4 linked regions of the Homo sapiens genome follow. The protein of the gene in region 1 interacts with the protein of each later gene in a pairwise test. Each region holds a gene or a part of one and is shown in the gene's direction. Other genes may lie near its edges.

The links.
Region 2: the proteins of BAG3 (region 1) and PLEKHB1 interact in binary tests that used the Homo sapiens proteins (3 or more experiments, as listed by UniProt).
Region 3: the proteins of BAG3 (region 1) and TRIB3 interact in binary tests that used the Homo sapiens proteins (3 or more experiments, as listed by UniProt).
Region 4: the proteins of BAG3 (region 1) and GLIS3 interact in binary tests that used the Homo sapiens proteins (3 or more experiments, as listed by UniProt).

Annotation. Positions count from the first base shown.
Region 1 is NC_000010.11:119,646,757-119,654,379, forward strand, and holds the start of BAG3 (BAG family molecular chaperone regulator 3), read left to right. Parts: upstream 1-4,623; 5' UTR 4,624-4,919; coding exon 4,920-5,099; intron 5,100-7,623. UniProt on the Homo sapiens protein: Co-chaperone and adapter protein that connects different classes of molecular chaperones including heat shock proteins 70 (HSP70s), e.g. HSPA1A/HSP70 or HSPA8/HSC70, and small heat shock proteins (sHSPs), e.g. HSPB8.
Region 2 is NC_000011.10:73,641,738-73,649,597, forward strand, and holds the start of PLEKHB1 (pleckstrin homology domain-containing family B member 1), read left to right. Parts: upstream 1-4,843; 5' UTR 4,844-4,871; coding exon 4,872-4,889; intron 4,890-5,916; exon of another isoform or gene 5,917-6,001; intron 6,002-6,465; exon of another isoform or gene 6,466-6,541; intron 6,542-7,175; exon of another isoform or gene 7,176-7,274; coding exon 7,275-7,350; intron 7,351-7,860.
Region 3 is NC_000020.11:376,052-383,771, forward strand, and holds the start of TRIB3 (tribbles homolog 3), read left to right. Parts: upstream 1-4,708; 5' UTR 4,709-5,118; intron 5,119-5,243; exon of another isoform or gene 5,244-5,449; intron 5,450-6,381; exon of another isoform or gene 6,382-6,494; coding exon of another isoform or gene 6,495-6,575; intron 6,576-7,720. UniProt on the Homo sapiens protein: Inactive protein kinase which acts as a regulator of the integrated stress response (ISR), a process for adaptation to various stress. Inhibits the transcriptional activity of DDIT3/CHOP and is involved in DDIT3/CHOP-dependent cell death during ER stress.
Region 4 is NC_000009.12:4,283,061-4,290,079, reverse strand, and holds part of GLIS3 (zinc finger protein GLIS3), read left to right. Parts: intron 1-3,556; 5' UTR 3,557-3,654; coding exon 3,655-4,042; intron 4,043-7,019. UniProt on the Homo sapiens protein: Acts both as a repressor and an activator of transcription. Binds to the consensus sequence 5'-GACCACCCAC-3'.

The DNA of each region.
Region 1 (7,623 bases):
CATTTTGGGAGGCCAAGGCAGGAGGATCACCTGAGGTCAAGAGTTCAAGACCAGCCTGGCCAACATGGTGAAACCCTGTCTCTACTAAAAATACAAAAATTAGCTGGGCATGGTGGCGGGTGCCTATAATCCCAGCTACTCGGTAGGCTGAGGCAGGAGAATCGCCTGAGCCAGGGAGGCGGAAGTTGCAGTGAGCCGAGATCACGCCACTGCACTCCAGCCTGGGTGACAGAGCAAGTCTCAAAAAAAAAGGATAATTAAATGGTGAGGGGCAAAAGAAATTTAGGGTTATGCTTAAGCTTCTGATCTGGGCAGATGAACTCCAGGAGGCCTAAAGAGGGAGTGTCTGAGGGCCTGGAGAAAAGAAAAAGCCACCGAGGACAGACATGATGCTCAGTATTCAACGTGGCTCAAAGCAGCTTCTTCCAGCCAGCTCTCCAAGACTTGTGTCTCTGTTTTAGACAAACCCTGCGGAAGTCCCTAGCGGAGGATAACTCTTCTGCGGTGAGCAGGTCTATGCACACCTACCCTCAAAGGCTGAGGAAACTGAGAAGCTGAAGAAAGAGGTGGACAAATCCAGTTTCTCAGAGAGAAACACTTAATAGGGACTTACAAACACAAGCCATGTCCTGGATGGCTGCAAGACAAGATGGCGGGTCCCTGCACTGTTACCCTGAAGTCCCAGGGCTTGTATACCACAGGGAATTCGCCACAGGCAGGATTTATAGTAAGTATGTGTTTACAGTAACACCAACGTTATTTTGACCGAAGGGTAAGTATGTGAAAATAGAAATCTTAGAGGCATTCCTGGAACGGGTTCATCAGAAACGAACATGGCAGATGAGCATCCAGGATGGAGCTGCTTTAGCCTCCAGAGCAACTGTCAGAAGCAGCTATGTTAATCCCAGAGTAACCTGCTTCCTCCCTGCTGCTTCTTTCAGGGGAAAAATGGCCAACACCACTTTCAGTATTTGTTTGTTTATTGAGACAGAGTCTTCCTCTGTTGCGCAGGCTGAAGTGCAGTGGCGTGATCTCAGCTCACTGCAAACTCCGCTCCCCGGGTTCCAGCGATTCTCCTGCCTCAGCCTCCCAAGTACCTGGGATTACAGGCACCCACCATCATGCCCGACTAATTTTTGTATTTTTAGTAGAGACGGGGTTTCACTATGTTGGCCAGGCTGGTCTCAAACTCCTGACCTCAAGTGATCCCCCCCACCTCTGCCTCCCAAAGTGCTGGGATTACAGGCATGAACCACCACACCCAGCCTCTGTGTTTATTTAAACTGTAGTTACTTAAACTGTAGTGGAAAGCAAATTGAGCAAGGAAGAAGATAGAAATAAAATTTCACTCTGGATTCAATCTTCGATAAACATCAACATTTATTGAATATGGACTCTGGGTTCAGGGCTGCAGACATAAGGAAGCATAAGGCAGACACTGACTAGTGAATTTGGGGGTCTAGTTCCTTCAACAGTAATATTTCCTATGGGAAACTAGTGCACTGACATTCGGGTTTATACACCTGTCTCTAACATGTTTGGTGACCTGCATCAGTCCCTGGGGCCTGATCATCACTGGAGTTACTGGACTCCAAAGCGGATAAGCATACTTTTACAAGTGAGAATCATTCCATTGGAAATGATAGGCAGGCCTCTCTGGCATTTTCTCCAGAAGGAGTAAGCTGAGGGCAGGAAGGGGCAGAGGTATTGACTGGGGTTCGAGGATATTCTCTGATTCCGAATTGAAAACTAGGCCCAATATTAGTTCAAAGCGTTTCTGGGGAAGGGAATGAGTCAGTATGTCTAAAGATCTAAAATGTCACCTCCCAAACATTCTCTCTTTCTGGAACACAGTCTCTCTTTCCCAGGGGAATTGGGGTGCTCATTGACGTTTGTTAAATAAAAGTTATAAGAGGTCACTGTTTTGGACTAAGCTCCTGCATTTGGCCTTAACAAACCCGACGAAAAATCAGAAAGGAGTCACTCATGCTAAAGTTCCACATCACCAAACCAAAACCAAGTTGTTATCTGACTTTCTGAGAAATCAGGAGAGGTGATAGTCTAATTTCCCAAACAGGCTACTTTCGAATGAGGGGTGAGGGTTGGGGAGTGACAGGAGGTGGCTGGGGGCACCAACTCCGTGCAGTCGAAAATCCCTGCAAAGCTGGGCGAGGTGGCTCATGCTTGTAATCCCAGCACTTTGGGAGACGGAGACGAGTGGATCACTTGAGACCAGGAGTTTGAGACCAGCCTGGCCAACATGGCAAAACCCTGTCTCTACTAAAAATACAAAAATTAGCCAGGCATGGTGGTGCACACCTGTAATCCCAGCTACTCAAGAGGCTGAGGCAGGACAATCGCTTGAACCCAGGAGGCAGAGGTTACAGTGAGCTGAGATTGCCCCACTGCACTCCAGTCTGGGAGAGAGAGCAAGAACCTGTCTCAAAAAAATAAATAAATAAAATAAATAAAATAAGAAAAGAAAGGAAAAAAGAAAATCCCTGCATACTTTTTTGTTTGTTTGTTTTTGAACTGGAGTCTGGCTCTGTCGCCCAGGCTGGAGTGCAGTGGCATGATCTTGGCTCACTGCAACCTCCGCCTCCTGGGTTCAAGCAGTTCTGCCTCGGCCTCCCGAGTAGCTGGATTACAGGCATGTGCCACACGTCCAGCTAATTTTTGTATTTTTAGTAGAGTTGGGGTTTCACCATGTTGGCCAGGCTGGTCTCAAATTTCTGATCTCAAGTGATCCGCCGCTTGGCCTCCCAAAGTGCTGGGATTACAGGCGTGAGCCACCATGCCCCGCCCCTGCATACTTTGAATCTCCCAAAACTACCAATAGCCTACTCTTGACGGAAAGCCTTGCCAATAACATGAACAGTCAATTAACACATATGTTGTATATGTATTATATGTATTCGTGCAATAAAGTAAGCTAGAGAAAAGAACATGTTAAGAAAATCATAAGGAAGAGATTTTACATTTACATAAGGAAGAGTAGTACACTTACTACTCATTTAGTGGACGTGATCATCATAAACGTCATCATCCTCATTATCTTCACGTGGAGGCTGAGGAGGGGAAGGAAGAGGAAGGGTTGATTCTCCTGTCAAGGGGTGGCAGAGACAGAAGAGGTGGAGGAGGTGGAAGGGGAGACTGGAGAGGCAAGCACATCGGTGTAACTTTTATTGAAAAAAAATCCATGTACAAGTGGACCTGCTCAATTCAAACCCATGTTAAGGGTCAACTGTACAGTAATCTGAAGTATGTAACCTGATGTTACATTTCTCTCAATCATTTCTCTCTTTCTTTCTCTCTCTTTCTTTTAAAGAGATAGGGTCTTGCTCTGTCGCTTAGGTTGGCATGAAGAGCAAAATCATAGCTCATGGCAGCTTCAAACTCCTGGGCTCAAATGAGCCTCCCACCTCAGCCTCCTGAGTAGCTGGGACTACAGGCATAAGCCACTGCACCTGGCTTATTTTTTGTTTATGCAGAGATGGGGGTCTTACTGTGTTGTCCAGGCTGGTCTCAAACTCCTGGACTCAAGAGGTCCTCCAGTCTTGACTTTCCAAAGTGCTGGCATTATAGGCATGAGCCATGGTGGCAAGCCCTCATCAGTTATTTTTCTATGATTCTGTCTCTCTGTCCCCTCCTTACAAGGAAAGTAATTTTGAAACAACCAATCCAGTCTTGGTTCTTTGTTTCTGCTTTCTTCAGCCCTTCTCTGTCTATAAAACCAACCTCTTCTGCTCAGCTCATGGGAGCACTTATTCTAATTTAATGGAGATGTTGCCCAATTTCTAGAATCACAAATAAGATCTTTAACAATAAAAGTTAAAAAATGAAAATCAACAACAACAACAACAAAAAAGATCTTTAAATGTGTTGTAATTTTCTCCTTTGACAGGTTACAAGTGCAATTGAATAAACCAAACAAAAAATGTCATGGTTATTCGGTCTTTACTTCCCAAATCAGGGTCAAGATATAAGATAGCAAGAACCAATCTCTACCATAAAAAAGATCCAGACCCAAGAAAATGTGATTTATCTTTAAAGCTGCAACGAAACTTTCTTTTTAGTCTAGGAGACTAAAAGCCATCAGTTGATACAATCTCTTTTTTTCTTGAAGTTTCCAAAGGAAGGCAGGTGAGTTTGCACTGACTTCCATTTTCTCCCTGGCTTCCTTCCGGTGTCAGATGAGAGTCCCCGCGCTCCTCCCGGACAGCCCTCAGGGTCCTCGGCTATCATATATGGGGGAGGGGGTGGAGGTGGGCGAGATGGTTTTGTTTGTACAGGAAGGACGGGCGGCAGGCACGGGGAGCACGGGCTCCGGCCCCGGGAACACTCACTCGGCGCAAAGGAGAGGGAGAGAGCGACTATGAAAGCCGAAACCCGCCCGGGGCGCACGGAGGACGGCCCCAGTCCAGCTCGTCCGGCTTCCCACCCGCAGGCGGACCCCGAAGCCGCGCCCGCGCCCGCCCGCGGCGACTCCGGCCCGGGCACGCGCACGAGTCGGAAGGGGGAGGGGCGGGAGGAGGTGGGGGAGGGGCGAGCGGGCCGAGGCCCCGCCCCCGCTCCTCTGCCCCGCCCGCCGCGATTATAGCCGATGACTCAGGGCGGAGCTCCGCATCCAACCCCGGGCCGCGGCCAACTTCTCTGGACTGGACCAGAAGTTTCTAGCCGGCCAGTTGCTACCTCCCTTTATCTCCTCCTTCCCCTCTGGCAGCGAGGAGGCTATTTCCAGACACTTCCACCCCTCTCTGGCCACGTCACCCCCGCCTTTAATTCATAAAGGTGCCCGGCGCCGGCTTCCCGGACACGTCGGCGGCGGAGAGGGGCCCACGGCGGCGGCCCGGCCAGAGACTCGGCGCCCGGAGCCAGCGCCCCGCACCCGCGCCCCAGCGGGCAGACCCCAACCCAGCATGAGCGCCGCCACCCACTCGCCCATGATGCAGGTGGCGTCCGGCAACGGTGACCGCGACCCTTTGCCCCCCGGATGGGAGATCAAGATCGACCCGCAGACCGGCTGGCCCTTCTTCGTGGACCACAACAGCCGCACCACTACGTGGAACGACCCGCGCGTGCCCTCTGAGGGCCCCAAGGTGAGCCGGGCCCGCGGCCCGCCCTGGTCGGTGGCGCCACCTCGACGGCAGGCGGCGGGGAGTGGGCTGGGCCGGGGGGACGCGAGGCGGCGGGGCCCGGGGGTCGGCGAAGGCCCCTCGCGGGCGGACACCGGCTCCGCGCCCCGCCACACACTCCCGCTGCGCCCGGACGAGTCCCCGCTCCGGACCCGCCCTTGACAGGCGTCGGGGCGAAAGGAGGCCCCGGGATTCGGTGGCCCGGGAAGCGACCCCGCAGTGGCTCCGGTGCCGTCCACGGCTCGACTCCAGGGCGGAAGGCCGGGTGTCCAGCGCTGGCCTCGCGCTCTAGGGCTGGGAGAGGGGCGGCCGGCCTGGTCAGCTCCGGAGGCCCCGGCCCACCGTGGCCCCTGCTGCCCGCTCGGCCTCCGGGCCCGGGACCCGCGGCGCACCCTGCTGACCGCGGACTCGAGGGGGACACTCGCAAGCTTGGATGGTGGTTTTGGGGGGAATTTTACCGCTCAAGTTCTCCAACTTGGTTGAGGGGTATCTTGGCTACTGTCCCATGTTAGGCACCCAATGACTCTGGAGGCTGGTGTCAAAACATTCATATATATATGTGTGTGTGTGTATTTTAAATTAAAATTGTATTATTGTTTGAAAGTGCTTTCAATATGAACGTATCCTAGTATGATTTGTAAAATAAAAAACAGGGTGTGCTTCTCCCCAGCAGTTTCTAGAGATCTAGACTAGAGATCTGAGACTGTCTTACAGTTGGCCATTGCCTTACCACATTGCCTCACACTGGAGAGAAAGAGAATGATACGTGTATATTTATAATGGCATTCGCTTCCTGCCTTGTTATGGTATTAAAATACTTAGGATTTGTTACCAGTACACAAATAACTGACTAATGATACTCTTGTGAATACAGCAGAAGTATGTCTCATTTACATACATGCAAGGATATATACTTCTTAATCCCCAAGAGCATGAAATTTGAAAATGTAAATTTGGAATGAGTGTGTTAATTTTCAAAAATCAGAGTTAGTTATACTATTCTTTCAATTTTTTATAAATTTGAGCTTTCAGGATAAAAAGTTTTTAAAATAAATATGTTATACTTAAAGCTGAATTGTTAACGCCGTCTGGGCAAGATAAAAGCAGCAAAGAGCTGGTAAATTATTTTGAAGATTTAAAAACTCACCAAATTAAAACTGCTGTGTAACCCATTGTTTTAGAAGAAAGACCTGTATTATTTCCCTTCATCTTTATGCACTTTTTGTTTTAACAATATTGATAAAACTCCGGTGCCCAGCAGTGAGACCGTGTACAGGCAGCAGTTTACATTTACGAGAGATTAGTTGTATATTTATTCTTGAAAATTAGTACAAGAGGCTGTAATTAGCTGGGATGGGCACAGTTACATATACCTTTTTGTGTGTCTGTTCCACCCATTTTTGGGTGAAACTGACACTCATTTCAAACCACCTTTCTTAGGAGTCTGCGTGGATGTACATGATCTTTAGTGTGGTTTACAACTATTATTTTGAAGCCTTCTTCCTGTAGACATAGGGATAGTGGTATCTGTTGGCAGCCTTTGTTGTGAGTGAAGATCAAGTTTGAACATAAACATTCCCAGCACTTTGTTCTCAGCATGAAACTTACCCAGCAAGTTGAGATCTTCCTGTACCCACCTGGTGCATGGGTTAGGCTGTGATTTCATAAACCTTATTAAAAGAAAAAAAGCAGGTTTAGTTACCATTATTCTTGTCAGCAAATACAAAGAACTACTAAATCAGAAGTCTGATGCTGGGAAGATTTATTTGAAAATTTCACGGTCAAAATTTTAAAGTTGAAATGTCCTTGAAGATCTCTTATGTTAGGCTTCTTTATTTTCTGAAACCCAGAGAGTTCAGGTGTGACTTTGAAGGTCATCCAGCTAGTACCAACAACAGGGAGAGAACTAGTGTCAGGAAAGTCCTAATAAGAGGCAGTGTGTCTCTTCAGAAGTTGGAAGTGAGTGTTTTGGGAAACTGAGGCATGCAGGCTAGAATACTTGATTATTTTTGTGCCCTCCTGGCCACCAAGTTATTGGGTCACTGACCTCTGTGCTGAGGTTGCTTGGATTTTGATGATGGGACTGATGAACTCAAGAAAAGAGTTCCCTTTACCAAGTGAATGACTTGAGACTTGTCAGCATGGCACCAAAACTTAAGGAGAAAACTAACATTCAGCCCATGAGCTGTTTGTGCTTCATTGCTTTCAATCCTGTGCTTTGACACACACAATATCAGGTTGCACTTGTGTGAGTTACACCTTACTGGAGACTAAATGTAGTGGAAAATCCTTGAATATCATTTTGTATTTGAAATTGGCTTCTCAATGCATAATGAGAAAAAGGCCCTTGCAGAAAACAAAGGGCGATTTTGGAGGAGCTGAGCTGAGGCCCGTCTGAGCATCATCATCTTCAAGAGGAAATGCTGTCAATCAGTAAAAAGCTGTTCATTGAGCATGAGGAGCTCAAGAGACGACCTCTCTTTTGGGG
Region 2 (7,860 bases), on another chromosome or scaffold:
GGGGCTGGCAAGTCTAAAATCTGCAGAGCAAGCTGGAAACTCTCAGGCTGGGGCTGAGGCTACAGTTCAATCCACAGGCAGAATTTCTTCCTTCTCAGGGAAACCTGTTTTGCTTGTTAGACCCTTCAACTGATTGGTGAGGCCCACCAATTATCAAAGATAATTTCCTTTACTTAACTTCAAATGATTGTATAGGTCAACCAAATCTACACAATATTTTTACAGCAACACCTAGATTAGTGTGTTAGATTGAGTAACTGGGGACTATAGCCTAGCCAGGTTGACACATAAAACTAACCATTACACTTCCTGGCTGGAGTGCAGTGGTGCATTCCATCTCCTGAGCTCAAGCGATCCTACCACCTCAGCCTCCTTCGTAGCTGGGACCACAGGTGCATACCACCACGCCCTAGCCTTAAAAAAAATTAGAAAAATATTTTATTAGTTTTAAAAACTTTTTACATCTCAACAACAAAAGCCAAATAACCCAATTAAAAAATGGACAAAAGATTAGAATAAACATTTCCCCAAAGAAGGTATACAAATGTCTAATAAGCACATGAAAAGATAACCAACATTGCCAGGCGCGGTGGCTCACGCCTGTAATCCCAGCACTTTGGGAGGCCGAGGTGGGCGGATCACAAGGTTAGGAGTTCGAGACCATCCTGGCTAACATGGTGAAACCCCATCTCTATTAAAAAATACAAAAAATTAGCCGGGCGCGATGGCGGGCGCCTGTAGTCCCAACTACTCAGGAGGCTGAGGCAGGAGAATGGCGTGAACCCAGGAGGCGGAGCTTGCAGTGAGCTGAGATCGCACCACTGCACTTCAGCCTGGGCTGAACAGAGCGAGACTCCGTCTCAAAAAAAAAAAAAACAAGATAACCAACATCATTCGTCATTAGGGTAATGCAAATAAAAAACACAAGGAGTGAATACTTAAGACAGACAATAACAAGTGTTGGCTAGGACATAGAAATATCGGAACTCTTAGAGGTTGTTGATGGGCGTGTAAAATGGTGCAATCACTTTGAAAATAATTTGACAGTTCCTCAGAATGTTAAACGTAGAGTTACCACATGACCCAGAAATTTCACACCCAAGAGAAAATAAAGCATATATATGTCCACACAAAAATGTGTACACAAATGTTCACAGCAGTATTATAATAGCTAAAGAGTAGAAATCACCCAAATATCTATCAACCAATGAATAGATAAATAAAACACGATATATCCATAAAATAGAATATTATTCATCAGTAAGAAGGAATGGGCCAGGCGCAGTGGCTCAGGCCTGTAATCCTAGCAGTTTGGGAAGCTGAGGAAGGAGGGCTGCTTGAGCCTAGGAGATGGAGACAAGCCTGGGCAACATAGCGAGACTCGGTCTCTGCCAAAAATACAAAAATTAGCCAGGTGTGATAGCATGTGCCTGTAGTCCCAGCTACTTGGGAGGCTGAGGTGGGAGGATTGCTTGAGCCAGAGAGGTTGAGGCTACAGTGAGATCGCACCATTGCACTCCAGCCTGGGTGACAGAGTAAGACCTTGTCTGAAAACAAAAACAAAAACAAAAACAAAAAACAAGGAATGAAATACTGATAACATGCTACAACCTGGATAAACTTTGAAAACATTATGCTAAGTGAAAGAAGCCAGTCACAAAGGGTCACACATTGCATGATTCCATTTATTTTTTAAAACTATTTATTTATTTAGAAACAAGGTCTCACTCTGTCACTGAGTCTGGAGTACAGCAGTGCAGTAACAGCTCACTATAACCTCAAACTCCTGGCCTCAAGAGATCCTCCTGCCTTCACCTCCCAAATCACTGGGATTATAGGTGTGAGCCAACTGCGCCTGGCCCATGATTCCATTTATATGAAATGGCCAGAATAGGCAAATCTGTACAGAAAGAAAGCAGATTAATTTTGCCAGGGACTTGGGGGGAAGACAGATTGGGAGTAACTGCTAAAGACTATAGGGTTTCTTTTCTTTTCTTTTTTTTTTTTTTTTTGAGATGGAGACTCGCTCTGTAGCCAGGCTGGAGTGCAATGGTGTGATCTCGGCTCACTGTAACCTCTGCTTCTCGGGTTCAAGTGATTCTCCTGCCTCAGCCTCCTGAGTAGCTGGGATTACAGGTGCGCGCCACCACGCCCAGCTAATTTTTGCATTTTTAGTAGAGACAGGGTCTCACCATGTTGGACAGGCTGGTCTCGAACTCCTGACCTCAGGTGATCCGCCACCCTTGGCCTCCCAAAGTGCTGGAATTACAGGCGTGAACTACCATGTCTGGCCTAGGGTTTCTTTTTAGGGTGATAAAAATGTTCTGAAGGCCAGGTGCGGTGGCTCACACCTGTAATCCCAGCACTTTGGGAGGCCGAGGCGGGCAGATCACGAGCTCAAGAGATCGAGACCATCCTGGCCAACATGGTGAAACTCCATCTCTAAAAATACAAAAATTAGCTGGGCATGGTGGTGCACGCTTGTAGTCCTAGCTACTCGGGAGGCTGAGGCAGGAGAATCACTTGAACCTGTGAGGCGGAGGTTGCAGTGAGCCGAGATCACACCACTGCACTCCAGCCTGGTGACAGGGCAAGACTCCATCAAAAAAAAAAAAAAAAATACCCACTGAATTTTTTACTTTAAAAGGGTGAATTTTATGGTAGGTGAATTACATCTCACTAAAATTATCACTTTGGCCGGGCGCAGTGGCTCACGCCTGTAATCCCGCTCTCAGGGAGGCAAGAGGCGGGAGGATAGCTTGAGCCCAGGAGTTCGAGACCTGCCTGGGCAATATGGCGAGACCCCGTTCTCCAGAAAAAGGAAAAAAAAAAAAAGACAAAAAAAAGCGTAAAATTATCACTTTAAAGTGTTTTCTTTTCTTTTTTTTTTTTTTTTTTTTTGAGACGGAGTTTAGCTCTTGTTGTCCAGGTTGGAGTGCAGTGGTGAAATCTCGGCTCACCACAATCTCTGCCTCCCGGTTCAAGCAATTCTCCCGCCTCAGCCTCCCTAGTAGCTGGGATTACAGGCATGTGCCACCACACCCAGCTAATTTTGTATTTTTAGTAGAGATGGGGTTTCTCCATATTGGTCAGGCTGGTCTCGAACTCCCGATCTCAGGTGATCTGCCCGCCTTGGCCTCCCAAAGTGCTGGGATTACAGGCATGAGCCACAGCGCCCGGCCATTTAAAATGTTTTCATAAGCACTTTTACTTTTGCTCAAATTGCATCTTGATATAAACTTCAAGTTTTTTAAAATAAAGATAATATAAATTATTCTCATTATATTATACTCTCTAGAAAATGTAAGTAGTAAATTTGAATTTGATGAGCCAGTCCACTATTTCCTAAACAATGTATTATCTGTGGGCTGTTCATTCACCAGGGACACTTGAAATGGCAAAATCTTTTCCTCTCTGCCAATGGTTCTGTGCACCATAGCCACAAAGAAATGTAAAAGTTACTTGTTGGCTTATTAGTCTCAATAAGTTTTAGTTGATTGAACAAACAAAGTCTCTCACAGCCAGGACTGCTGCGGCTGGAATTCCTGACATACTGTCATACCTCTCACTCGTCAATCTACACTCTCCTCCCATCTACACAGCTCTGGAAATTAAAAACAATCCAACCATGACTATCATGGCTTCAGAGGTCTATGAACTCCCAGGAATTATACGCAGATTTTTTCCTGAGGACAGTCTACACTTCCTTATTGGCTTCTCAAAGAGGGTCACTGACCAGCTTTTAGAGACATGGGCCAAGTCCGGCTACGTTTAGATTCGGTAGTAGTGTCTGTGGTTTTAGTTTGCCACGTCCTTTCCTCTTTTTTTCGTCATAGTGCCCGCTCTTTGGGAGGTAGGGGAGAGTCTTCCCCTGAAGTCTCCACTGCTGCTGGAGAACCTTCCTTTTTCATCTGGTTGCTAAATCCAGAGAATGAAATCTAGGAGATGATTGCACCGTCCCCGCCCCTCAACATGAAGGATGCCCCACTGCCCATCGGGGAGGGGAGCAGGGAGAGCTGGAGAGAGGCTGGGTCGGGGCAGGACCCAGGCGCAGATCCTCCGAGGCCAGCTGCAGCCCTACCTACCTGCCTTCCCGTCTTTCCCCTCCCTTCTTTTCTCCTTCTGTCTTTCCTTCCTTCCATATCTCTTTCCTTGCCTCTTTCCCCCTCCCACTGCTTCCTTTCTTCCTTCCACTGTGGAGGTGGAAAATTTAGCTAGGAGAAGCTGGGACTGGGACGTTCCAGGAACCAGACAGAGAGTGAGTTAAAGGCACAGAGATGAAAACGCGGTATGGGAGAGCTGGTTCTTGAGTCGGCTAAGAGGGGATGAACTCAATGGTTAATAGGATTGGCCATGGCGAATCCCTCAGCAGGGCACGCACCGCACAAAGGGCCGAGGAGCGAGGGTAGCTCGAGGTCAGGATTACAGAGACTCAGGAGCAAGAGAGGAAGGCTTAAAGAGCCAGACTGCGCAGCCAGGACTGGGGTGATGGGCGCTGTCCTGCCAGGCCAAAGAATGAAGATGTAGCCCCGCCCCCAACCTAGGGAGGAGGACCAGCCCGGTTCCTGTCCTGCCCCCGCAACCTCGCCCCGATTCCACTCCGGGAACCTCGGCGATGCTGAGCCAAGACCACTTCTGAATCAGGGATGACTTGTCTAGTGAACCTAGGGTCAGAGCCATCAGTTGGAAAGGCTGGGAGGAGCCTGGAGAAAGAGGGCGACCTTCCTTGGGATCTGTGCGCTCCCTCCTTGCCTCCCCCTCCAGCCTCCCACTTGGTAGCACCTTCCTGATCCCCTTATCTCTAAGGCGCTCAGGGAAATGCCCCGCTGCGGGAGCCTTCTGGGAAATGCTGCCCTGGCCACCCAGGAACCATGAGCCCTGCAGCCCCGGTAAGGAAGAGTTCTCTGGGACAGGAGGAAGGGCCCAGGGCAGGGTGGGCACCCTTGCCACATAGGGGACGGGACAGAAGTCTTTTAGGCCCTGACATCCTCTGGTCTCTGAATGACATCCTGTGGCTGCTGGTAGGTGAGGGTTTGCGGGGCTGAGCTATTGAAGGAAATGATCACAGTCCGAGGTGATAGATACAGAAAGTCTTCCTTTCTCCAGGTGGGCTCCCGCCAGTCCATTCTTCACTGTGCCCTAGAGGGGCCTTTCCGACCCCCTAATCACACACCTCACTCCTCATCTTGAAACTCCCACCCCCAGCTCCAGTCACTGCGTCCTAACATCCAAGCTCTCCGCCTGTCATGCAAGGCCTCTGTGCTATTTCTTTCCAAACCCTGCAGCTCTATCGCCTGACACTCCCGATGCCCTCCCCACCCCTGCGCTTTATGTTCTAGACACACGGAAATGCTGGGCACTCTTCAACATCCTGACAGTATTCATAGGGGAAATTTCGGGTCGCCTAGGAAACTGCCCCTCATCCTCCAAGGCCCCTTTCAGCCTCCTCTGGGAAGCCTTCCTGAACCCCTTGAGAAAAGTCAGGCTCATCTTTTCCATTGTTAAATCACACCTTGTGCTCCAATTGTGTGTTTCCATGTAATCTCCCTCACTAGACTGGAAGCTGGGGATGGAAAGGGGAAGCATCAAAAAAACATGCAAAACTAGGAGCTTGGCTTCTCCTTGCAACTTTACTTTTTCTTTTTTTCTAGGAACTGAGTTCAATGATTCTTAAGAAAAAGTATTTCATGATAAATGAGTGAACAAATGTCTTAATAGAAAAGTAAAATTGCAGGCGGGGCTGCTTCTGCCCAGCTCTACAGGGGTAGACTACAAGTCCCAGTACGCCTCGGGTCAGCATCTCTTCACGTCACTCCCCCTCCCTGGGGTGGGCAGGTCCGGAGGGCGGGGCCCGGGGGCAGCTGGGCTCTCAGGCGCTGCGGGAGGAGAGAAATGCCCCAGGCTCTCCGGGGCACACAAAGCGCAGGCGCAGCGGGTTGGGTGGCAGCAGCATCGAGTAGCGGCCGCTTAGGCAGCAACATCCGCAACAAGTGTAGACAAGGTGGGTGCATCAAGGGGAGGGGCTGGAAAAGGAGTCTGCACCTGACCCTCTTGTCTGATCTGTGTCAAGACCGTGGAGAGGGGAGGGAGCGGCAAGAGGAACAGACAAGGCTGGGCCTTCCAGCCCAGGTGTGCCAGCCCTTGTTACGCAGCAACAGGTGTGAGCAGGTGGGGGAGGGGCGGAGGCACCCGCTGGCAAGTGAGTCGCCCTCAGGAACAGAGGGCACCTACCTGGATTCCAGTGCAAGCTACATCATGTACATGGATGAGTCATTTGCTAACCCTCAGTTTGTCCATCTGTAAAACAGGAGTAAGGATTCCCTTCCTAACAGGGTTAGAGTGGGGACAAGGTGAGGGAGTAGAATGTGCGGTGACGTCCAAACTTAGCTGTACATTGGAATCATCTGAGGATCTTTGAAGAGTATCAGGGCTTGCCTCCTGCCCTCAGACATTCTGATTTAATTGTTACGGAGTGTGGCCTGGTATCGGAAGTTCTCAAAGCTCCTGCCGGCATAACGGTTTGAAGCCAGGACTGCTGGGTGTGAGTCTGGGCTCCATTGCTTACTAATCAAGTGGCCCCGTGCAACTGACTGGACCTTTCCGGCCCCCGTTTCCCCATCTCTGAAATAGGAATAATAAGGACTGCAGGGAGGCTTAAATGAGATAATGGATGAAAGCACTGATAGGGGGTACCCGGACAGAGTGCTCGGTCCATCACAGCTGCTGTTGAACTGCTCTTTGAAGCACTTTGTAAACAGCTCTAGTGGGGTCCAAATAGGAGGGAGCTTTTCCCTCATCCATTGCCGTGATTCTAATATTCTGCACTTCCACATTACAGAATCCCAAGGTTTCTAATACTTTAAGAGTCTCATGCTCCACCGACTGAGCTAGTCAGGCATATTCTAATGTTTCAAGAGCTCCTCCCTCCAGCCTCTGCCTGCCTCACAGACACACTTCTACAGATCTAGAAACTGAGACCAGGACAGAGGGCCAGGGAGGAGGGATATGGCCAAAGTTACCAAGCTGAGGCTGGAATCCAGGCTCCTGGTCCCCACCCCCACCCCACACCAATGGCTGCCCTGCTGACCCCACAGTGACAGTGCTCCCATTCTCTTCCTGAGCAGAGAATGGGGAGGAGGCCGAGGCCGCCTGGCCCTTGTTTACTAACCCTCCCTCAAACGTTTCCTGGGTGGCTCCCCAGGGACGGCAGGGCTGGGGGCTTCTCTCCAGGGAGCTGCTGCTGAGGCCTGTGTCTCCCGTGGCTCCTCTGACAGGTCCCGCCTGACTCCGCTCTGGAAAGTCCTTTTGAAGAAATGGCCCTGGTGAGGGGCGGCTGGCTGTGGAGACAGAGTGAGTGATCCTGGGCCCCTGGTCCTGGGGCAGGGTGAAGGAAGTGGCTTACTGGGCTTGCCACGGGGAACACTTCTCTCAAGAAACCAGGACCTTTTCATCCTTCCCTTGTTTGTCCATGCTCTTCCCTCTGCCTGAAGGTCCTTCCCATTCCCGACTACATGGTTTAAACTTCTATTTGTTCATCACGACCCATCTCAGATGGGCCCCTCTCTGAGGAGCCTTCTCTGGCTTTTCCTCTGGCCCCCACCCCTGCTCCTGCAGTAGCGTCAAGCTGGATTAGAGGCTCCCTCCTCGGTTTTCACGGCGCCTTACAGTGATCTCCTTAGAACAGAACTGTCTATCTGTGGGTATCCCCACTCCCTGACCCCAGACTGGCCCCAGTCTGCGAACTCCTCAAGGACAGGGGCTGGGTTTGACCCTCTGTGTGTCCACAGTCCCCCAACCCCGGGCTGGACACAGAACGAGGCACAGAACAAAGTGAAAAATGCCTTTGTGCTTTGGAATCCA
Region 3 (7,720 bases), on another chromosome or scaffold:
AACCAAACCTATAGGAAAGAGAAAAGCAGCCTTCTGGGCTCAGAAATCTGAGTAGAAAGATGTTCTGAGCCTGGAGAAAGAAATTCATAAAAGCCTGACTCTCTCTCCAGAAAAGAGTACATTTCTGCATTTAATTTTGGGAGGTTGGTCACCATTCTTTTCCTCGCTTCTAAATAAATGCTTATATAGCATTTATATTCCAGTCACTTTACAAATATTGTCATTTAATTCTCATGCAAACCAACGAGGTAGGAACTATTGTTATCCCCATTTTACAGATGGGGAAACTGAAGTACAAAGAGCTGAAGTAACTTTTCCAAAATAGATGTGGTTTTGAACCCAAGAAATGTGATACAACTATGACATGAGGCAGTCCCAATGCATTGAATCCTTATGACTGCAATGCAAGGGAGGTATAATTAACTGCATTTTATAGATGCAGAAACTGAGGCTTGAGGCTATTTGGTGTTTCTGGTGTAGATCTAGGAGCCAAACTCCAGCCTACCTAGACTCTTTGCCTCTGCTGTACCCCTGGACCATGTGTTAGGAATTCTTGGTACAGGGTGGTAGTGCTCAATATGGTAGTGGTTTTAGTCTGTTTTCTGTTGCTTATAACAGAATGTCTGAAACTGAACAATTTTGAAAGAAAAGGAATTTATTCCTTACAGCTATGGAGGATAGGAAGTCCAAGATTGAGGGGGCACTTCTGGTGAGGGCCTTATTCCTGGTCTCTGAAGTGTCTGGAGGTGGCACAGGGTATAGCGTGGAGAGGGGACTGGGCATGCTGACATGCTATGCTTTGGTCTCTCTTCCTCTTCTTATAAAGCCACCAGTTCTCCTCCTGTGAAAACCCACAAATCCATTAATCCATGAGTGGGTTAGTCCATTCATAAGGGCAGAGGCTTCATGATCCAATCACTTCTTAAAAGTCCCAACCGCTCAGTACTGCCACATTGGGGGATTAAGTTTCCAGCACATGACATTTGGGGGACACATTTAAACCATAGCAGTAGCCATTTGCCACATGTGGTTATTGAGCACTTCAAGTATGGCTAATGTGGCTAGTGTGACTGAGAATTTTTTATTTTATTGAATATTTTAATTTTTTTTTTTTTTTTTGAGATGGAGTCTCACTCTGTCGCCCAGGTCAGAGTGCAGTGTCATGATCTCGGCTCACTGCAACCTCCGCCTCCCGGGGTCAAGTGATTCTCCTGCCTCAACATCCCGAGTAGCTGGGATTACAGGTGTGTGCCACCATGCCCGGCAAATTTTTGTATTTTTAGTAGAGACAGGGTTTCACTGTGTTAGCCAGGACGATCTTGATCTTCTGACCTCATGATCCACCCACCTCCGCCTCCCAAAGTGCTGGGATTACAGGCATGAGCCACTGCGCCCAGCCTCACATTATATTTCTATTGGAACACAGAATGGTCTAGAGAATTGGGATTTGACAAACCCAGCTGTGACAAGTCACCAAAATTTGGGGGCCATACCCAGGGTGCCGTTCCTGTCACGATACCCATAGGTCCATGTGGAGGCTGCAGGGATACAAAGCTCGTGAAATATCCCAGGATGGCATGGGCACTGGAGTCAGCTGCCCCAAGTTCAAATCTGAAATCAGTCTTTTTGTTTTTTTTTTTTTTTTGAGATGCAGTTTCACTCTTGTTGCCCAAGCTGGAATGCAGTGGCGCAATTGGCTCACTGCAACCTCCGCCTCCTGGGTTCAAGCGATTCTCCTGTCTCAGCCTCCCGAGTAGCTGGGATTACAGGTACATGCCATCACGCCCGGCTAAATTTTTGTATTCTTAGCAGAAACCGGGTTTCACCACCTTAGCCAGGCTGGTCTCCATCTCCTGACTTCAGGTGATCCGCCTGCCTCAGCCTCCCAAAGTGTTGGGATTACAGGCGTGAGCCACCGCGCCCAGCCTGAAATCAGTCTTATACGACCAGCTGGGTGGTCTTGGGTAGGTCCCTTACCTTAACTCTTCTTGTCTGCAGAATGGAGGTGACTTACTGTTTTTCTCTGTCTCCCTTTCACATCTTTGCACTCTTCACCCCTTCTCTTCCCTCAGCTTTTAGTTTAAACATCACCTTTCTGATAAGCCCTGCTGAAAATGGCCACCCTCAGTCATGACGGAGAACAAGTCTTTCCTATTTTATTCAAGAAAATGCATGATGCAATCTATTTTAAATGATCATGGTTTTAATTTTATTTTCCTGATAATGGTCTATCTCTCCACTGATTTATAAGATTTGTAAGAGCAGGGGTGGATCATTCTGGTCACTGCTGAGTCCCCAGCATTTAGAACAGGGGCTGACACAGCACAAAACAACGTTAGTTGGGAATGTACAAGCAAACCCAGCACACCTTCAGAGGGGTGCTCAGGAAACAGCCCTCCCACCTTTCTTCACCCCTCACAGCTGTGGGATCTTCCTAACCATTTCGGTGTCCCAGGATAGAGGATGAGTTTATTCACCCCTCCCCAGCAGGGGAGTTGCCAGGATTAAATGAGATCCCAGAATGCCCTGGTATACCCTGAAGGCTCTGGGACACAGGTGAGCTGGTCCCCAGGGATTTGGAAACAGGAAAACAAATATGACTCCACCCTGCCTCCCATCCAGCCTCTGCCTAGAGGAGTTATTTTATTTTATTTTACTTTTTTTTTTTTTTTGAGACGGAGTCTTGCTCTGTCGCCCAGGCTGGAGTGCAATGGCGCAATCTCAGCTCATTGCAACTCCTGCCTCCTGGGTTCAAGCGATTCTCCTGCCTCAGCCTCCCGAGTAGCTGGGACTACAGGTGTGTTTTTTGTATTTTTAGTAATTTTTTGTACTTTTAGTAGAAACGGGTTTCACCGTGTTAGCCAGGATGGTCTTGATCTCCCGACCTCGTGATCCACCTGCCTCAGCCTCCCAAAGTGCTGGGATTACAGGCATAAGCCACCACGCCCAGCCTCTAGAGGAGTTATTTTACTTACTTACTTATTTATTTATTACACAGGATCTCACTCTGTCACCCAACCTGGAGTGCAGTGGCACAATCACGTTTCACTGTAACCTGAACTCCTGGGCTCAAGTGATCCTCCTACCTCAGCTTCCTAAGTAGCTGGGACCACAAGCTCGTACCACCATGCCCGCTATCTTTTTCTCTTTGTAAAGACAGGGTCTTACTATGTCATCCAGGCTGTTCTCAAACTCCTGGCCTCAAGCAATCCTCCCGTCTTGGCCTCCCAAAGTGCTAGGATTACAGACATGAGCCAGCTCACCCAGCTGAGGAGTTATTTTTTGACACTGGTGAATTCAGATCAAAAGGGATTTCTAAGAAAGGTGCTGGACCCAGGCCGGGCGCGGTGGCTCATGCCTGTAATCTCAGCACTTTGGGAGGCCGAGGCAGGTGGATTATCTGAGGTCAGGAGTTCGAGACCAGCCTGACCAACATGGAGAAACCCTGTCTCTACTAAAAATACAAAATTAGCCAGGCATAGTAGCGCATGCCTGTAATCCCAGCTACTTGGGAGGCTGAGGCAGGAGAATCGCTTGAACCCGGGAGGTGGAGGTTGCAGTGAGCCGAGATCGTGCCATCGCACTCAATCCTGGGCAACGAGTGAAACTCTGCCTCAAAAAAAGAAAAAAAAAGAAAGGTGCTGGACGCCTAGGACGCAGAGGGGTGTTTCACCCCAAATCAAGTAGCACCAAGCCCTCCCAGGCCTTGGGTGCAAGCATATTAAAGGCCTCTTTCCCTCTCTGTCTCCATTGTTTACACTCCACTGAGCATCCGCAATGTGCCACACACTGTTCTAAGCGTCTTACACATATTAAATTATTTAATCCTCACAACAACTTTATGAAGTGAGCGCAATTATGAGCCCATTTTATGGAGCAGGAAGTTGAGGCAGGGTTTTAGGTAGCTTTTCTGGGGTAGCACTGTGGGTTGGAGCGGAGGTGGAGTGCACTCTTAGGCCAGCTGGCTCTAGGGGCTCTTCACCACTAGGCCGCACTGCCTCTAGCAAAGGGACGCGGGGAAGCTCAGCAGACCTTAGGCCTCCCAAGGGCGCCACGGTGGTTCCTTTGAGCCCAGAGTCAGCTCTTAAGTCCATAGGCCTTCCTGAAGCTTCTGAACCACTTGCCCATAGCTGGGCCTCAGGCTGGCTCTCAGTAGAATGTGGAGAATGGAGATTCCCGCATGTCCACTTCTCCTAAAGGTTTTATAAGGCAGTGCTGGGAATGTGCTTTATAAAAAAGGGGAAGCACCCCGACAACAGTCACTGTTTGCTCTTTTAAGCACCATCCTGAGAAGGAGGAATGTTCTTCCCATTTCATAGGTGGGGAAACCGAGGCTCAGAAGAGCAAATTTTTGGCCGGGCGCGGTGGCTCACGCCTGTAATCCCAGCACTTTGGGAGGCCGAGGCGGGTGGATCACGAGGTCAGGAGATCGAGACCATCCTGGCTAACAAGGTGAAACCCCGTCTCTACTAAAAATACAAAAAATTAGCCGGGCGTGGTGCGGGCGCCTGTAGTCCCAGCTACTCGGGAGGCTGAGGCAGGAGAATGGCGTGAACCCGGGAGGCGGAGCTTGCAGTGAGCCGAGATCGCGCCACCGCCCTCCAGCCTGGGCGACAGAGCAAGACTCTGTCTCAAAAAAAAAAAAAAAAAGAGCAAATTTTTTTTCCAAGGTGATAGGGAGAGTCCGTGGCTGATGTCTGCACTGACCAGACGCCCCTAGGGGGCCAGCGAGGGCGGGTCCCAGGTGCAGCGGATGCAGAGGAGAGAGGCCCGGGCGCGGCGCGGGGGATGGTGCGATCCCGGGCCCGAGGGCATCAGACGGCGGCTGATTAGCTCCGGTTTGCATCACCCGGACCGGGGGATTAGCTCCGGTTTGCATCACCCGGACCGGGGGATTAGCTCCGGTTTGCATCACCCGGACCGGGGGCCGGGCGCGCACGAGACTCGCAGCGGAAGTGGAGGCGGCTCCGCGCGCGTCCGCTGCTAGGACCCGGGCAGGGCTGGAGCTGGGCTGGGATCCCGAGCTCGGCAGCAGCGCAGCGGGCCGGCCCACCTGCTGGTGCCCTGGAGGCTCTGAGCCCCGGCGGCGCCCGGGCCCACGCGGAACGACGGGGCGAGGTACTCGGCGGGGTGCGGCCTGCGGACTCGCCCGGAGGCCGGGGGGCGGGAGGGGGCGGCCGGGGAAGGGGGCGCCGGAAGCCTCTGGGCGTCTGCGTGTTGCCGCGTGTTACACGCACGCACGCCCCTTACACACCTTTTCACAGACCCCGCCGTCGGGGCGCGGCCAGGTCAGATCCCTTTTGATCCGGGCCTGGGCTGAGTGCTCCCCCCGGGCTTCAGGTGACGCGGCCCCGCGGAGCGTGGGGTCGCCCGAGTTGGGCTGGGGAAGCCAGGGACGGAGGTGTCCGGCCGTCACCCCTAGAGGAGGGCGTGCGGGGGTCTGTTTTGCGTGAGTGCGGGATAGGGGAGTCGTGTGGTGCGGTGAGGGGCTTGTGGGGGGCACTGGAGGACTCTGGGGGTGGCGGGGGATCCGAGGGGGTCCTCGTGAACCCGCAGGGGAGAGTCCTGGGTGAGGGTGGGTCCCGAGCACCTGTGTCTCAGGAGATGGTGAGAGCTGTCTGGAGGGCTGGGCACTTGGTGGCAGGGGTTGGCGGTGCAGGGGACACCGCCGGGACAGGGCTGGGGTGCCCTGGAGCGGGGGAGCCGAGGGAGTGGGAGCGGGGGCGCAGCGCGCGATCTCTGGCCCGGCAGGGCCGCTGGTTCTCCCCAGTGCGCGGCTCCGGGTTTGCAGGTGGACGGTGCGCGCGTGTCTGCGGTGTGTGCTGTGCCTGCAGACCGGGGAGGGCGGGGGACGACAGCCACCTCCTTCCCTCTGCCTCACCCCCCTCCTGTCCCAGGGCCGCGCTTCAATTTCCGCTGAAACTTCTGACTCGGACACCCGCCGCCTTTCGCTTGGGCTCCCACGGGAGGGGCCTGGCTGCGGGGGGCGGGGCGGGGTGGGGGTGCGGCCTTGCTCGGGTAGACCATGGGTGTGACAGCTGGGAGGGCTGTGTGTGTGTGTGTGTGTGTGTGTGTGCGTGCGCGCGCGCGCTTGCGCTTGATGTAACCCGCCCTCATTTCCCTGGGTCCCGAGTGTGGCAGGGAACAGCAAGAGGTAGATATTAGGGGCTGCTTTCATTCCACATCACAGATTCTATTCTGCAGTGTGGTCTGCAAAATGCCTTGCCCAAGATGTATAGACTCAGTTACCGCATCTGTCCCCATCTGGGTGGAGCTTATCCCAGGCCCCAACAGGCTCTGAGGGATGGCCGGGGCCAAGGCAGCCTGGACTACTGATGTGGCACAGGCCAGAGGGACTCCAGGCAGTCTCCTGCTGCACAGGGCACAAAGCATGTGCACAGCCAGGTATCATCCTGCGTGACTCAGAACAGCCTTGAGATGTAAGGAGTGTCATCCCAGCCTCGAACCTGGGGAGCTTTCTAAGACTCCCAAGGATGGTACTTATGCATCTTGCTGTGAAGAATAACAGGATGAGTGCTAATAATGACCATTTCCTGACACCTACCTGGCAACAGGTCCATAAGCTCTACATGCTTCATTTGTGTTTTCATTTCATCATCACGAAAAACCTGTAAGCTTTGCATCCTGTTCCCACTTTACAGGAACTGAGGCTCAGAAAGCTTGAGGAACTTGACCAGGGGTACCCCCCAGCTAGAAAGGGTTTGAGACAGGATTAGAACCCAGGAATATCTGACTACAGCCACTCCTTACTGCATTCTTACCAAGCCAAAGTCATGACCTTTCACTCATGTGGGGAGGCCTTCCCTTCCAAGGCAGCTCTTCCATTTGGGAGCAGCGTACTTGGAGAGGTGGGCCTCTGTCTGGTAACTGACTCATGTTGCCTTGTTAATCCTGCCTTGAACTGTTGGGAAGGTCTTTAACCAGGCTGAGGTCTCTCGCACCAATGCCCATACCTGGGCATGCACCTCCTTGGAATGGAGTTTAAGTGGGTGGGCAGATGGGTTCTAGAGAGAACCCGTCTGCCCTGACCATGCCCTACTGCCCTCTCCTTCAGCCACCACACACACAGTCACACAGCTGCGTGAATGGTGGCTTTCCTTTCACTTAACAGTTCACTCTGGAGATCCTTCCAATTACCCTATAAAGAGCATCCTCAACCTTTTAAATGGCTGCACATTGTTCCGTTGTGTGGATGAAGTATAATTTATGTAACCAGCCCTGTAATTATAGACAGCCAATTATTTCTGTCAAAAGGGCTGCAGGAATAACTGTGTATTTGCATGCTTACACACACACACCTCTACAGAATAAATTCTTAGCAATGGGATTAATTGCTGAATCAAAGCTCACACGCTTTTCATCGTTGTTTTTGTTTTGTTTTGTTTTGCTTTGTTTTGAGACAGTCTCACTTTGTTGCACAGGCTAGAGTTCCTGACCATGGCTCACTGAAGCCTTTACCTTCTGGGCTCAAGTGATTCCCCTACTTCAACCTCCTGCATGGCTGGGACTACAGCTGTGTGCCATCATGACCAGATAATTTTTTTTTTCTTAGGGACAGGGTCTCGCTACGTTGCCTAGGCTGGTCTTGAACTCCTGGGCTCAAGTGATCTTCCTGCTTCAGCCTCCCAAAGTACTGGGATTACAGGCATGAAGCACTGCACCCAGCCTGTTTTTCATTTTGATATTGTCAAAATGCACT
Region 4 (7,019 bases), on another chromosome or scaffold:
ATTTTCTGGAATGGATGAGTTAACATTGCTTTTCGTTTGTTTAATCTTTTAATCCATGATGAGCAGTGCCTGGAGCCTTGGGTAGAAGGTAGAGTCATGATTTTATATTTTGATTAAAGTCACGCATTTTCAGAAAAACTAGTGGAATTACTAAATGGTTTTGTGCCTTAGTTTCCTTAGGGTTAAGTAATTTCCTCTCTGACCTGATTTACAGAAGTGTGTTCAAAGAGTTTGAAAGTGGTCAAAAGGAAAGATTTATTAACTTTCATGCTGACTCATATTAGCAGAATGAACATTTTCATTGTAGGAACCAATGTAGTATAAAACTCTAGCTATGCCACAATGTCAGATCCAAAATATCCTAATTTATACCTCTGGATGTTCCTTGCTTTTTCTTTTTCTTGTTTCTTTTGTTTTTGTTACTGGTAGCCTGGGGTAGAGTAGTTCGATGGAGAACAGAGGAGAAAATGCTGACTAGAATAATGTGATTGGATTTTTAACTAGAAAGGTGCTCTTCCGATGGAATCCTGTCAGTTAAGTTTTTGACAGTGATTAGTTGTGATTTTACCTTTTTGGCAAAGTGTAAATGCAATGTTGAAATTTGTTGTTCATGGTTAGTATTGCCCATAGACAACACATCGCTGATGGGCAAGCCTTTTTCTATCAGCTCGCACTTTGATGGGGGTGGTAGAGAATGCTATTATTTTTTGCTTCCATGTCTACCGTCCAGATTTAAATGCCATAGGTATAAAATCTACATATTTATTCTTGATTATAGCAAATGGGTGTTCTTGATAGTCTTTCTTTTCTAAATTACCTGGAGTTACAGAATTTCAAGAGGCCGTAATGAATAGATCCAAATTCCTGAACTTTTTATGGATGAAAAACTGTAAGTCCAGAAAAGTTATAAATGATTTGTCAGAAGTAGAACTTGGGTATCTTGACTTTTTGAGTGCCATTTCATTCACACTCTATGAGGGTCTTTCTTAAAAGTTATAATAGCATTTTATCCCTTTTTTTGTTACCAAGGAGACTTAGGATTATATCTTCATCATATGGCCTAGCTAAAAAGTATAGAAAATATTATCATATAAATAGATGAAATTTATTTTTACATTCTAATATCTAATGTTTGAGAAATCTGTTGGCGTAATTAATGTGAAAACTGGAATATTCGCCATATTTTCATGTTTAGTTTCTTTTATTTTTGTCTTGAGGCTGGTTTTGCTCAGCTTACATGCCATTGGCCTATTGGTTTTTTCGTTATGGTATTAATCACTTTACTTTCTGGCTGTTGCTTTCTTAGTAATAAAATTTAAGTATACTTTTTGTTGTTTTTACTTTCAACCTAAAACTATTTAAAACGGGAGTGTAGTTTATAAAAAAAATAAAATAAAATAAATATTCATTCCAAGACAGGCAGATGTGAATGCCTGATACTTAATTAAGTTGTCAGTGCTCTAATTATTTTTCCTTCTTGCAAACTCACCTTTTTAATGATCGTGCTAAGTACCTCCTTATGTGTTTTTATCCAGATTTTTTGATGAGAATTCCTGCTCGTATATGATCTTGCTGCCAAAAAAAATGACTCCTTTATTTTTAAAAACCTGGAAATGGGCACAGTCTGAAAATCTGCAGACACTTGTCACTTGGACCATGGTCTTAGTGACTCATATTTCCAGTCATGTTGAACAATTCTTTATTTTAAAAAAGTTGCCAATGTGACATATTTCTTTTGCCTTTTTTTGGCGGGGGGTGGGTTGCTGCTGAATACGTGCTTTCTTCTGCAGGGTTCAGAGTGCTCAGAAAACACTATTTTATCAATGAGAGGAAAATAGATGGCCAATTTTATCTGGCAAAGTACAGAGACATTAAGTGACTGTTGCTCATGATCTACCAATGAATGGATTTACAGACTGGCTGGTGACACACAGGAGTTCTCCTACATAAATGTACCATAAAAAGCATTGGAATTTTACCAATGTAAGAACTGAGGTTATCTGGTCACTCCTGCTTCGTACTCATGGGAGAAGAGGGCAGGAGTGAGACCTGACTTAGAGGAATGTGGCTGAGTGTTTTCCGGAACTAGATGGCATGATAGTATTAAATGTCACAAACTGATGGCATTCTTAGTGAAAATAGAGAATTAGTAAGAATTAAGAAAACATTCTACATTTTATATTGTTAATTACTTTTGAATTTCCTCAAGATAGGCACACACAGCAAACTTTGCAGAAGGCATAGTGAGTGCTTGAGTTAAAATTAGATATTTTTGATTTTCTAAAAATGAAAAATAAACTCTTCACAAAAAGTGTTTCTCCTTGATAGCCTTTTCTCGATTATTTATGGAGTCCTTTATTTGGAAGTTGAGTTGAAAAATGTTTGTTCAACACTTTGAGTGGATCATACACAAAAATTAGGAATCATCCACTTGAGGATATCTGGTCACTCCTGCTTTGTACTCAGTCCTTATTTCCTGTGTTTGTTGAACTTTGGCTTCTTTCCATGACTGTCATCTCTGAAAGACAGATTGTGACAGTGTCTATAATACATTTGGCATAGTGGCACAACCATGGCACTTTACCACCTCATCGCATACATTTTGGGGAGCTATTGGTCAAGGGAAGGAGGGGCCTTCTTTAGTGATTTACAACCCGGCATCATCACGTGGGTGGGTGATGACGTCCTGCGATCATGTCAGTGCTTCTCTTGGTTCTTGTTCTGCTTCCTTAATGTTAGGAAGCTTTATGGAACTATGGTAGATTTACTGAATGTCATGTATCATGTACATACTGGACAGGTCACTTTTAGAAGGGACGTTCTCTCCTTATGCTCCCTGTAAGGCGTTTTGCACAGCCCTTCTCTTTTCTAGGATTTTAGTGGAAGGTTGCAGTATCCTGTTGTTGATTCTCTTCCCATCCCCATAACTCAGGATCATTATGGAACCAAGACTCTAATGCTGCCATGAATATTTGAATATATGAATATGTGGATATATAAAAATTTTATGGTATTCCCAGGCCTAGGTGTTCATCTTTTTCGAATCTAGGGACTGTGACAAGATAGCTCTTAAAGTGAAAATCAGAGATGGTTTAGTGTCCCCATAGTCTCATTTAGAAGCCATGTCTGCTTTGTGGTTGTTTACTGGAACTTTGAAGCATTGGTCTCACAGCTCAGGTAGGTGGTGCTTTTGGGTTTCCCAAGACCCACTGTAGCAAAAGTGAACTAGTATGGACAGATCCTCTAGGGAACAAAATAAGTTTTGTTTTGCAAGCTGGCACCAGTAGATTGTTGTAGTTGCCGAGAGCACTGTATTGAGAAGGGCTCAGTGGCAAACAAAACAATGCAGTGATCCATAATCCATGTCCACCATGAGTGCAGAAGGGGAGAGTGCCTGCCAATGAGCCGTGTATTTGAGGACCCTTTTCTACATAAAAGGCCATCTTGCTAAGAGTGCTGCTTTTCTTCCTTATGAATGATACACAGGTTGAAAAACTCACTGTATCTTATTTTCATTTTTGCTTTTAAAAATGCCTGCGTTTATTTTTTTAAACAGGCTTATAACCCACACCATGGATAACTTATTGGACTTTGCCTGAAAGGAGTCATTAGTGACATTGGATATTTGACCGTCTTGGCCACAGGTTTTTCAGAATGAATGGAAGATCATGCAGCATGAGTCTCCACCGGACATCGGGAACCCCACAGGGGCCTAGGATGGTCAGTGGTCATCACATTCCTGCCATCCGAGCCCACTCCGGGACTCCTGGCCCCTCGCCCTGTGGCAGCACATCGAGTCCCACTATGGCAAGCCTTGCTAACAACCTCCATCTCAAGATGCCCTCAGGAGGAGGGATGGCTCCTCAGAACAACGTGGCTGAGAGCCGCATCCATCTGCCTGCCTTAAGCCCCAGGAGACAAATGCTCACCAATGGGAAGCCGCGATTCCAGGTCACCCAGGCTGGAGGCATGTCAGGGTCACATACTTTAAAGCCAAAGCAGCAGGAGTTTGGAAGCCCTTTTCCTCCAAATCCTGGGAAAGGTAGGATTGTCTTTCTGGAACCTTTTAAAAATGGAAACGATTTTTTTCTCCCCCATCCCATTTTCTGCCAGCAAATCCTATGGAAAAATACATGATTCAGTGTCAGGGTCAAAGATGATGGTCTCATAATGATATATAGCTTGCTCAGTAAGGGAATGGGTGTGTATGTGTTGGAGGGGACCACAGTGGTAAATGCTGAGTATGAGACATCTCCTGGGACTGTGAAACAGAGTAACAGTAAGATAGAAAGATAAAAAATAGGGAGGCAGGCTGAGTGGTTGTGGTGGAAGGGTAAGAGCTAGGTTAGCAAGATCATGCCCTCCGGATACAGGTAGCGCTGCCCTGTTTCCCTGGGGGCTGAATTCTCCAGGCCATGGACAAGAAGACCGACTGGAACTGTCCTTATGCCAGTGCTAAAAGTATAGTGTAGAAGAAAGGTGGTGTTTGGAAGGAAAAGAATAAAAAAGGGAAATTTTAATAACCAATAAAATGAGGAATCAATAAATATAAATAAGAAAAATTAAGAGCAAAGCCTGTAATTTTTATCATATAGCTAGTAGCAAGAGGGAAGCAAGCTAGAAGGGAATAATGAAAAGATGTATTTTGTGCTTGCGGAGAACTAGAAAACCTGGTCAATTTGAAGTATAGAGAGAATGTGCTTTTAATTCATTAGTGTTTTAATTACCATATATTTTAAATTAAAGAATAATTGTTGGTGAATAGCAAGTTATTTGAGCGACACATTAGAAATTGATGTTGAATTAATGAGGTTATATTGTAGATGACGTATGTATTTAGAGAAAGAGCATGCACCCCACGTAAAATATAGCTTTGCTGTATAAAATAGCACAATTATATATTCCTTAAGGTATTTTTAGCATTCCGTCTTAAATGTTTATGTTAAAAATGCTTACACCAGCAAATAGAATTACTAGCAACCTTCAGAATAGCCAGTCATTCAGTTAATTAAGGTGAATAATGATTTCTATCAGTCAAGTAGCCAAAAAGTTGTTTTAGAGTCTGTGTATTTCTGTGTTTGGATAAATTGGTATAAATGGGCAGGTTTAAAAAAAAAATAGCACTAAACATACATGTGCCTTTTAAATTAGAAAATTTTTTGAGACGGGGTATCACTTTGTCACCCAGGCTGGAGTACAGTGGCATGATCTTGGTCTCACTGCAGCCTCATCCTCCTGGGTTCAAGTGATCCTCCTGCTTCAGTCCCCCAAGTAGCTGGGACCACAGGTGCGTGCCACAACGCCTGGCTAATTTTTTTTTTCTTTTTTTTTTTTTGAGACAGGATTTCGTTATGTTGCTCAGGCTGGTCTCCAACTCCTGAGCTCAAGTGATCTGCCTGCCTTGGCCTCCCAAAGTGCTAGCGTTACAGGCGTGAGCCACCGTGCCAGGCCTTAATTTATTTATTTTTCTTCTTCTTCTTTTTTTTTGGTCTAGATTAGTTTTGAGTCATTTTATTTCTTAGAGGTACTGATATTTAGCATAAGTATAGGAGAAAGTTTCCCTGGGGCTACATCCAAAATAGGTTGCTCATTGTCAGGTTGCTATGTCCATGATGTGGCAAGTTAAGTTCCCTCCTGTTAAATTTAGGTGTTCAGATTTTCAGGGGTTGAGGCCCGATAAAGCCTTTTAGCGCATGCTTGACTAGTGAACCGTAGCTTGCTTTTATATGTACTTGTGTTTGCAATCCTGACTGACACTAATAATGGTGATAATATTAATAACTTGCCTTTATTGTATCATAACTCAGCATATGTCAGGCACCGTGTTAAGTGCTTTCCAATACGTAGTCTCAGTTATTCCTCAAACAGCACTGAGTTGTATGCTATGGTTATTTAACTGATAAGGGAACTAAGGTCTAGAAAGAGTAAGTAACTTCAGAGGCACCAGCCAGTAAGGAGCTTGGGAATACTAACTTTGATGGCGGTCAGCAGTGGCTGTAATTAAAGCCATGTTTTCTTAAAAAACCTCAGGTGCTAGTGAATTCTCAGGGTTGATACACCTTGAAATGCCTGTCAGAAGTAGTGCTGCTTCTTGATTCTCTTCCCTGTGGCTTTTTGTTTCCTTGCTCAGCTTCCTAGCTTACAGTGCTCCTCCTGGATCTGCATGGTTGGCACATGCATAGGCACAAATGAGGGGTAGAGGACAGCTGTATTATTATCACCTCTAGCTTTGGAGCTTAGATACCATCAGTGGTCTAGATGGTGCAAGAAGTGGCTGAATGTATCGTTTCTTCCAGATTTTGGTTGACAATTCCTATACTAAGCCAATAACTGGTTGAGGATGGTGATCTAGGATTATTTGAACTTTGATCATTTACTCTACAAATAATTATTGAGCATATATTATGGGTGAGCCACTGTTCTGGAGATGCAATAGCCAATAAAGCATAGTCCTTTCCCTCAAGGAGTTGGATAATTCATACAAACAAGTGGGCAGTTAAACTACAGCACAGTAGGTGGGGTGCGATGGCTCACGCTTGTAATCCCAGCAGTTTGGGAGGCCAAGGCAGGCAGATCATTTGAGGTCAGGAGTTTGAAGCCAGCCTGGCCAAGATGGTGAAACGCCGCCTCTGCTAAAAATACAAAAATGAGCCGGGTGTGGTGGTGGGCGCCTGTAATCCCAGCTACTCGGGAGGCTGAGGCAGGAGAATTGCTTGAGCCTGGGAGGCAGAGATTGCAGTGAGCAGAGATTGCGCCATTGCACTCCAGCCGGGGCAAGAAAGCAAGACTCTATCTCAAAAAAAAAAAAAACAAAAAAACAAAAAAACAGCACAGTAAGGACTCCGGTAGGGATACACTCAGAATGATATGGCCACATAGAAGGGTTCCTGGCCTGTGCTATATAGGCAGATACTTGGAAGGTAAAGAGCTAGCTTTGCAATCCTGCAAAGTGCATTCCTGTGTGTGTGTGTGTGTGTGTGTATGTGTTTGTGTGTGCACGCATATATTTGCATGGAGGG